Homo sapiens: one gene and its partner. The protein of the gene in region 2 purifies or fractionates together with the protein of the main gene of each other region. This does not show direct contact. Each region holds a gene or a part of one and is shown on either strand. Other genes may lie near its edges.

Region 1 (3,953 bases), on a different chromosome or scaffold from region 2:
TTGAACTCCTGACCTCATGATCCACCTGCCTCAGCATCCCAAAGTGCTGGGATTACAGGTGTGAGCCACTGCACCCAGACCAACTTAATTCTTAAGATAAAATGTATTATAGTATTATGGCTGGGCACAGTGGCTCACACCGAGATCGCGCCACTGCACTCCAGCCTAGGCAATAGAGCCAGACTCCATCTAAAAAAAAAAAAAAAAAAAAAAGAGTATTACAGTATTATGTAAACAACCACTCTAGTGCTATAAGTGTGACCTAAGTACTTAGCACTTTAACAAATTGATGTAAGTACTTAGTACTTTAACAAATTAGATCTGAAGTTGAAACACAGTTGCTGGTTTTCAGAAAACCGTTCTGGATTTAAGGGTTTCTGGATAGGCGACCTCAGAACATGGCACCTTATGTCCATTTTCACGCTGCTGATAAAGACATATCCAAGAGTGGGTAACTTATTATTATTATTATTTTAGACAGAGTTTCACTCTTGTTGCCCAGGCTGGAGTGCAATGGCACCATCTCAGCTCACTGCAACCTCTGCCTCCTAGGTTCAAGTGATTCTCCTGCCTCAGCCTCCCAAAGTAGCTGGGATTACAGGCGCCCGCCACCATGCCCAGCTAATTTCTTTTTGGTATTTTTAGTTGAGACGGGGTTTCACCATGTTGGCCAGGCTGGTCTTGAACTCCTGACCTCAGTTGATCCACCCGCCTCAGCCTCCCAAAGTGCTGGGATTACAGGCGTGAGCCACCGAGCCTGGCAAGAGTGGGTAACTTATAAAGAAAAAGAGGTTTAACTGCCGCAGTTCCACGTGGCTGGGGAAGCCTCAAAATCATGGCAGAAGGCAAAAGGCACGTCTTACATGGTGGCAGGCAAGAGAGAATGAGAGCCAAATGAAAGGGGAAACCCCTTGTAAAACCATCAAATCTCATGAGACATTCACTACCACCAGAACAGTGTGGGGAAAACTACCCCATGATTCAATTACCTCTCCTCAGGTCCCTCCCACAACACATGAGAATTATGGGAACTACAACTCCCATGAGATTTGGGTGGGGACACAGCCAAACCATATCACTTGGCATTTGAGGAAATAACAGTAGCAGGAAGGTCCCCCTCAGACCTTCTTTTGCCCCTCTTCCCTGAAGCAGGCCATAAAAGAATTCTCTGCTCTTCCTCTGAAGAAGATCATAAGACTCTCAAGTGAGAGGTGCTTTTCCCATACCCAGAGGAACACTCTTATCTCTTGGGATATGAAAGAGCAAAATAAATGCCCCTTTATCAACTAAGATGGGCCCTAAGGTTAAGAAAACAAAAATTGGCCGGTGCGGTGCCTCACGCCTGTAATCCCAGCACTTTGGGAGGCCAAGGTGGGCAGATCACGAGGGCAGATGTTCGAGACCAGCCTGGCCAACATGGTGAAACCCCGTTTCTACTAAAAAATACAAAAATTAGCTGGGCGTGGTGGCGGGCGCCTATAGTCCCAGCTACTCGGAGAGGCTGAGGCAGGAAAATGGCGTGAACCCGGTAGGCGGAGCTTGCAGTGAGCCGAGATCGTACTACTGCACTCCAGCCTGGGCAACAGAGCGAGACTCCGTCTCAAAAAAAAAAAAAAAAAAGAAAGAAAGAAAGAAAGAAAAAAAGAAAACAAAAATTGCCCACGGGTCAAGGGTTCAGGGATTGGCCGGCACGGCAACTTCCCAGATTCCTAAAGCTACAAGAAAAACTACACTCGTGGCAGGGCGCGTGGCTCACACCTGTAATCCCAGCACTTTGGGAGGCCAAGGCGGGTGGATCACCTGAGGTCAGGAGTTGGACACCAGCCTGACCAATATAGTGAAACCCCTTCTCTACTAAAAGTACAAAATTAGCCGGACGTGGTGGCTGGCGCACGCGTGTAATCCCAGCTACTTGGAAGGCTGTGGCAGGAGAATCGCTTGAACCGAGGAGGCGGAGGTTGCAGTGAGTTGAGAGTCCGCGCACCGTTGGCACCGCGATGAGGGCGGGAAGCACAGCGCGGGGCCCCCGGGAGCAAGAACGCCGCGGGCACCCAGCCCTCGTGGGAGGCGGCGGTCGGGGCACGCCCCGGGCCGAACCAGGCTCTGCACTCCCGCGGGTGCCCGGACCTGAAGGGTCGTCCGCTGGCTCCAGGATTCTGCATCCCCGACCCGCTCCGGGTGCGCCGAGGCTGCTGGGACTTCGCTGCGGGAGCGCGCCCGGGGCCCCGGGGCCTGCACGGAAGGCGGCTGCGGGGAGGGTGGCCGGGCAGAGGCTTCGGTCCCGGGCGCCCCCTCCCCGGCCGGACCCCCCTCCCCGGCCGGACCCCGAGTCTGCAGTCTCCGCAGGTGTGCCGCGTGCGGGTAGAGACGGACGTGGGGCTGGACGCGGGCACTCAGGGACGGACGGGTGGGGGACCGACGGCCGGGGGAACAGAGGGCGTGGAGAGACGGCCGTGGGGACAGGGGGGCGGGTGGGCGCGGGAAAGGACGGACTGGGGGACTGAAGGACTGGGGTCCCGCGCCCGATGGACGGAGGCGCCAAGGACCAGCGGACTCGGGGGCGACTGGGCGACGGTGGGCGCAGCAGGGCGGAGGCACGGACAGAGGACGTACCTACAGGCCCGGCCCGGCCGCCTTCGCCTGATCCCGAGACCCACGGCGAGCCTCGCGCCGCCGCCGCCTCCCCTCCGCCTTACCTAGGGCCAGCATGTAGCCCTCGAAGTTGTCGCTGCTGAGCAGGGTCCAAGTACCGCTGAGGTCGGCGGGCATGGTCGGGGATCGCGGGACAAACCCGGCGGGCGGCCGGAGGCTCGGGCCGGGACCTATAAACCAGGCGGGGCGGGGCAGGGGGGTGGGGCCGCGCGCGGGAGGAGCAGGTGGGGCCGCGTGGGTCCCACTCACCCCTAGAAGCCGCTGCGCTCCCGGCCGCCTCAGCCCGGTGCTCCTGGCTCTGCCCACCGCGCGGCAGCTTCCCCCTTTCCTTGGGGCTTCCTCTCCTACTGCTTTCTCATGTCCCAGACTGTTTCGGGCCACATTTTCTTCCCTGCTTATATGTTAATGACCCAGGGATGATCTTCAAACTCATGGCATTGAATATTGTCAGCTTCAATAACAATATACCTCTCAACGTAACTCTCATGGTCTCAATAAATAGGAGTTTATTTTTCTTAACAAGGAGTCCTGAGAGAAGTGATTGCTGGTGATGATTCGCACCTAGGAATCACAGTGATTCGCACCTCGGTAACGCCGCAGCTTCGTCTCTGTGACTCTGGTGGCCTTTTATTCCTGCTTGTTACCTCCTGGTCATGAGCTGGCAGCTGGGTTCCCAGCCAGGACATCCACATTCAAGGTAGGGAAGAGGGAAAGCACCAAAGGTCAGTATCCCTGCAGCACAAACCTCCCCATCTCCTATAAGTCTGGATAGTTGGAAAAAAGAAAAGAAATTACCCAGCAGGTTTCTGTGTACATTTCATTAGCCAAAACTGTATCAATGCCACTTCTAACTGCAAGGGGGCCTGGGGATTCTAGTCTGCAGCATTTAGCCTCAGAGCAGAGAAAAGCAAAGGAGAAGGGGTGGGAATATGGGCTAACCTACAACATTAGCCACAAACACCGCCTAGATATGCTGGCTCCAAGACTGACTTATTGATTTTATTTTTATTTTTTTTCTTTTGAGACAGAGTCTCACTCTTTCTTTTTTCTTTTTTTTTTTTTTTTTGAGACGGAGTCTCGCTCTGTGCCCAGGCTGGAGTGCAGTGGAGAGATCTCGGCTCACTGCAAGCTCCGCCTCCGGGGTTCACGCCATTCTCCTGCCTCAGCCTCCCGAGTAGCTGGGACTACAGGCGCCCGCCAACACGCCCGGCTAACTTTTTATATTTTTATTAGAGACGGGGTTTCACCGTGTTAGCCAGGATGGTCTCGATCTCATGACCTTGTGATCCGCCCGCCTTGGC
Region 2 (3,500 bases):
GTCTAACCATGAGAAAAACATCAGACTGAACTGGAAGGTTGGACAGAGCTTCCACAGTGTTCTTTTTCATAGTTGGGATGACTTTACATTTGGAAACCAGATCTAAAGTATTAGTAAGAATCGAAATGCTTGCAAATTAAGAATAATTAAAATAATTTTATGTTATCTAGATAATTGGTTTGTCTAGTATTCTGAATCTAAAAAATACAGTCATCTATAGATGGTAATATATTATGATACCTCTATGATCATAATATTTGATTAATATCCATTTCCCAGGCCAGGTACAGTGACTCACACCTGTAATCCCAGCACTTTGGGAGGCTGAGGCAGGCGGATCTCTTGAGATCAGAAGTTTGAGACCAGCCTACCAACATGGTGAAACCCCATCTCTACTAAAAATATAAAATTAGCCAGGCATAGTGGCGCACACCTGTAATCCCAGCTACTCAGGAGGCTGAGGCAGGAGAATCGCTTCAATTCAGGAGCCAGAGGTTGTTAGCCGAGACCACGCCACTGCACTCCAGTCTGGGCAACAGAGCGAGACTCTGTCTCAAAATAAATAAATAAATTTATCATACATCAGAAATAGGTTTATTATATTTATATGTAAATATATACATTTATATTTATTATATTTATATGACTTAAGGTTTTGATGACGTGATGATGCTCTAGGGCTGTGATTCTCAATGGGGAATGAATAAAATTTAACCAAAACTTTTTGGCTGAGGAGAAAATACAAACAATTATGGCAGGTAACTAGGTTAACCTGTGGATGGCAAAACATGACTACGAAAGAAAAGAACATTTAGAAAGCCTTGGGGAGGGAGGAGGATCGAAAAATAAAATTTAATTTAAAAAGAAAGAAAGAAAGGCAATAAAGTGTGTAAAATAACTCCAAGAGATCTTTCTTCACAATGCCCATTTCTGTATCTGTACAAAATTCCCTATGCCACTATGTCAGACAATCTCTTTAGCACTCAGCACTCAAAATGCTAGAGCAAGATGAACTAAATTCAAAGACCCTTTTGACACGGAGTCCATCCATTTATTTCAGAGATCCCACTCAAGCAAGTGAGGCAGTAGAGAAGAATAAAGAAGCAATTTAGTGCAGTGTTTAGTAAGAGTACATGTTTGACACTTAACATGCCTGGGTTGATTTGCAGCTTTGCCTTTTATTACCCATGCAACATCAGGAAAGTTTCATTTATTTATTTATTTATTTATTTATTTTTTGAGACACAGGCTTGCTCTGTGGTCCAGACTAGAGTGCAGTAGTGCAATCAAAGCTCACTGCAGCCTCAACTTCATGGGCTCAAGCGATCTTCCCACCTCAGCCTCCTGAGTGCTGGCACTACAGATGTATGCCACCATGCCCAGCTAGTTTTTTGGGGTTTTGTTTTGTTTTTTTTTTGGAGAGACAGGGTCTTGCTATGTTGCCCTGGCTGGTCTCAAGCTCCTGGGCTCAAGTGATCCTCCCGCCTTAGCCTCCCAAATTGCTGGGATTACAGATGTGAGCCACTGCAGGTGGCCAGGCAAGCTTCTTAACCCCTCTGTTCCTTAGTTTCTTCACCTGTAAAATGGTTCCAACTTTAGAGGGATGCTGTGAGGATGAAATGAGATAATCTAGGTAAAATTCTTAGTATAGTACCTGATACAGAGTAATGTTTGCTATCATTATTATTATTACATATTTCAAAAATCCCTCACTATCAAACTGTTTGGTCTTTGTTATGTACACAATTCATAAAAGGCAAATCTGTGGCCCACCAACCTTTCAGAGTTCCATAGTACCTCAAATCAGATGACAAAGATAGGCTTGGACACAGAGCCCACAACTCAGAAAAGTCTGTACCCCAAAAGTTCACCTTTTAGTCAGTGGAACACATTTCCCTAAGTGCACAATTGAAACAAGCAGTGGCTGTTATTCCCACTGCAGATGAAAGGTGTGAGTAGGTGGGTCTGAGCATCTCACTGTGACCAGTACCACTGCTCTGCTGGGGAAGGTATCTGTGGTACCTGGAAAGAAAAGAACACCGTGACCCTGGAAAAAAGACATCTTCCCCTGCCATTGCAGCAGCTTGAAAATACATCTTATTCTCAAGGACTTCAAGAACCTAGTCTGTACTGTACAAAGAACATCATAGCACTTGCTGTGTCAACATTAAGAAACACTGTAATCCACAATACACACAAAGATTATAAAATAAAAAAGTACGGATTTGTTTCTATTTCAAACTCTGACTATGCTTTGGGTAATGACCTTTCAAAAGCAGGACACTTTCTAATTGACACTGTCAGAGACCAGGAAGTGCCCCCCAAAATATGCCTCTTTAGCTAAGGATTTTTTTTGAGCTAAAGGCAATTAAGCAGCAGCAGATGGAGGAAAGCTCTCGGCCCTCCGTTTGCCTAAAATCAGGACATATAATAGATTTACAAAGAGAAAAGGTATCCTGCCCACCTCTCTCCCAAGGAAAACAAAGGTTAATCACTGAAGACAACTTTAGACCCCTATCAGTCTGGAGACAGCACAAGAGAATCCACATTAACGAGCTTTACTAACTAGCCTTAGTATTCAGTTTCCCACAAGTTGTCACCCTGAGAGATTTAGAGTTCATTTCCTTTGTCTTGTCACTTCTCTAAAATTTTACTGTTCTTTGTTGAGGATGCTACCTAATCTGGGGGAGTGAGGAGAATGAGAGAGAAAGGGGAAGAGGAGAGAGGGGAGAGAGTGAGGAATTGTTTCAAGGTGAGCAGGTCTATGTGAACCTGCCCCAGAAAGTCCGAGGAAACTGAGAGGCTGAAGAAAGAGGCTGACATATTCAGTTTCTTAGAAAGACATATTTAATAGGAACTTACAAACAGAAGCCATGTCTGTGTCTCAGGCTTTGGCAGGACAAGACAAGGGATCCACGCACCACTACCCCCCAGACCCAGGGCTTATATCATAGGGAAAGGGTGATCTGAAGGGATGTGTAGGGCAAGCAAAGTACAATAACATCAAGGTTGCTTGACCTAAGGTCAGGATTTATAGTAAGTACCTGTTCTTACATAGGGAATAGTAGATAACCTGGAAATCTTAGAGGTATCTTGAAACTGGGGCTAATGAGAAGTCAATATGGCAGATCAGTATCCAAGATGGAGTTGCTTTGGCCTCCGCAGGAATAAAACAAACATAGCAAAATGTTAACACAAGGAATCTGTGTGAAGAACATCCAGGAATTCTTTGTCTTGTTCTTGCAACTTGTCTATGAGTTTGAAATCATGTCAAAGTAAAAAAATTACATTGGATATAAAGCAATACCTTTGTCAAAAGCAATGGAACTATACAAGAAATCTGCAGATTGCACCATATGTAAATAACACTTCAATTAAAGTAATGAAACCTTATTTTAGATGTTTTCTCAAAGTTCGATGATTGGAACACTTCAATAATTAAAAATGGAGAAGAGAAACCCATTGAGGACATAACAGAATGAAGACTAACTTCATGCATA

What was found.
Region 1: the proteins of C2orf76 (region 2) and RBP7 fractionate together in Homo sapiens (co-fractionation; one large-scale study listed by BioGRID). This does not show direct contact.

The regions. Positions count from the first base shown.
Region 1 is NC_000001.11:9,996,075-10,000,027, reverse strand, and holds the start of RBP7 (retinoid-binding protein 7), read right to left. Parts: upstream 2,801-3,953; 5' UTR 2,770-2,800; coding exon 2,697-2,769; intron 2,347-2,696; coding exon of another isoform or gene 1,998-2,346; exon of another isoform or gene 1,939-1,997; intron 1-1,938. Other genes in the region: translation initiation factor IF-2-like, read left to right, coding at 1,998-2,346, 3,176-3,309. UniProt on the Homo sapiens protein: Intracellular transport of retinol.
Region 2 is NC_000002.12:119,335,835-119,339,334, forward strand, and holds part of C2orf76 (UPF0538 protein C2orf76), read right to left. Parts: intron 1-3,500.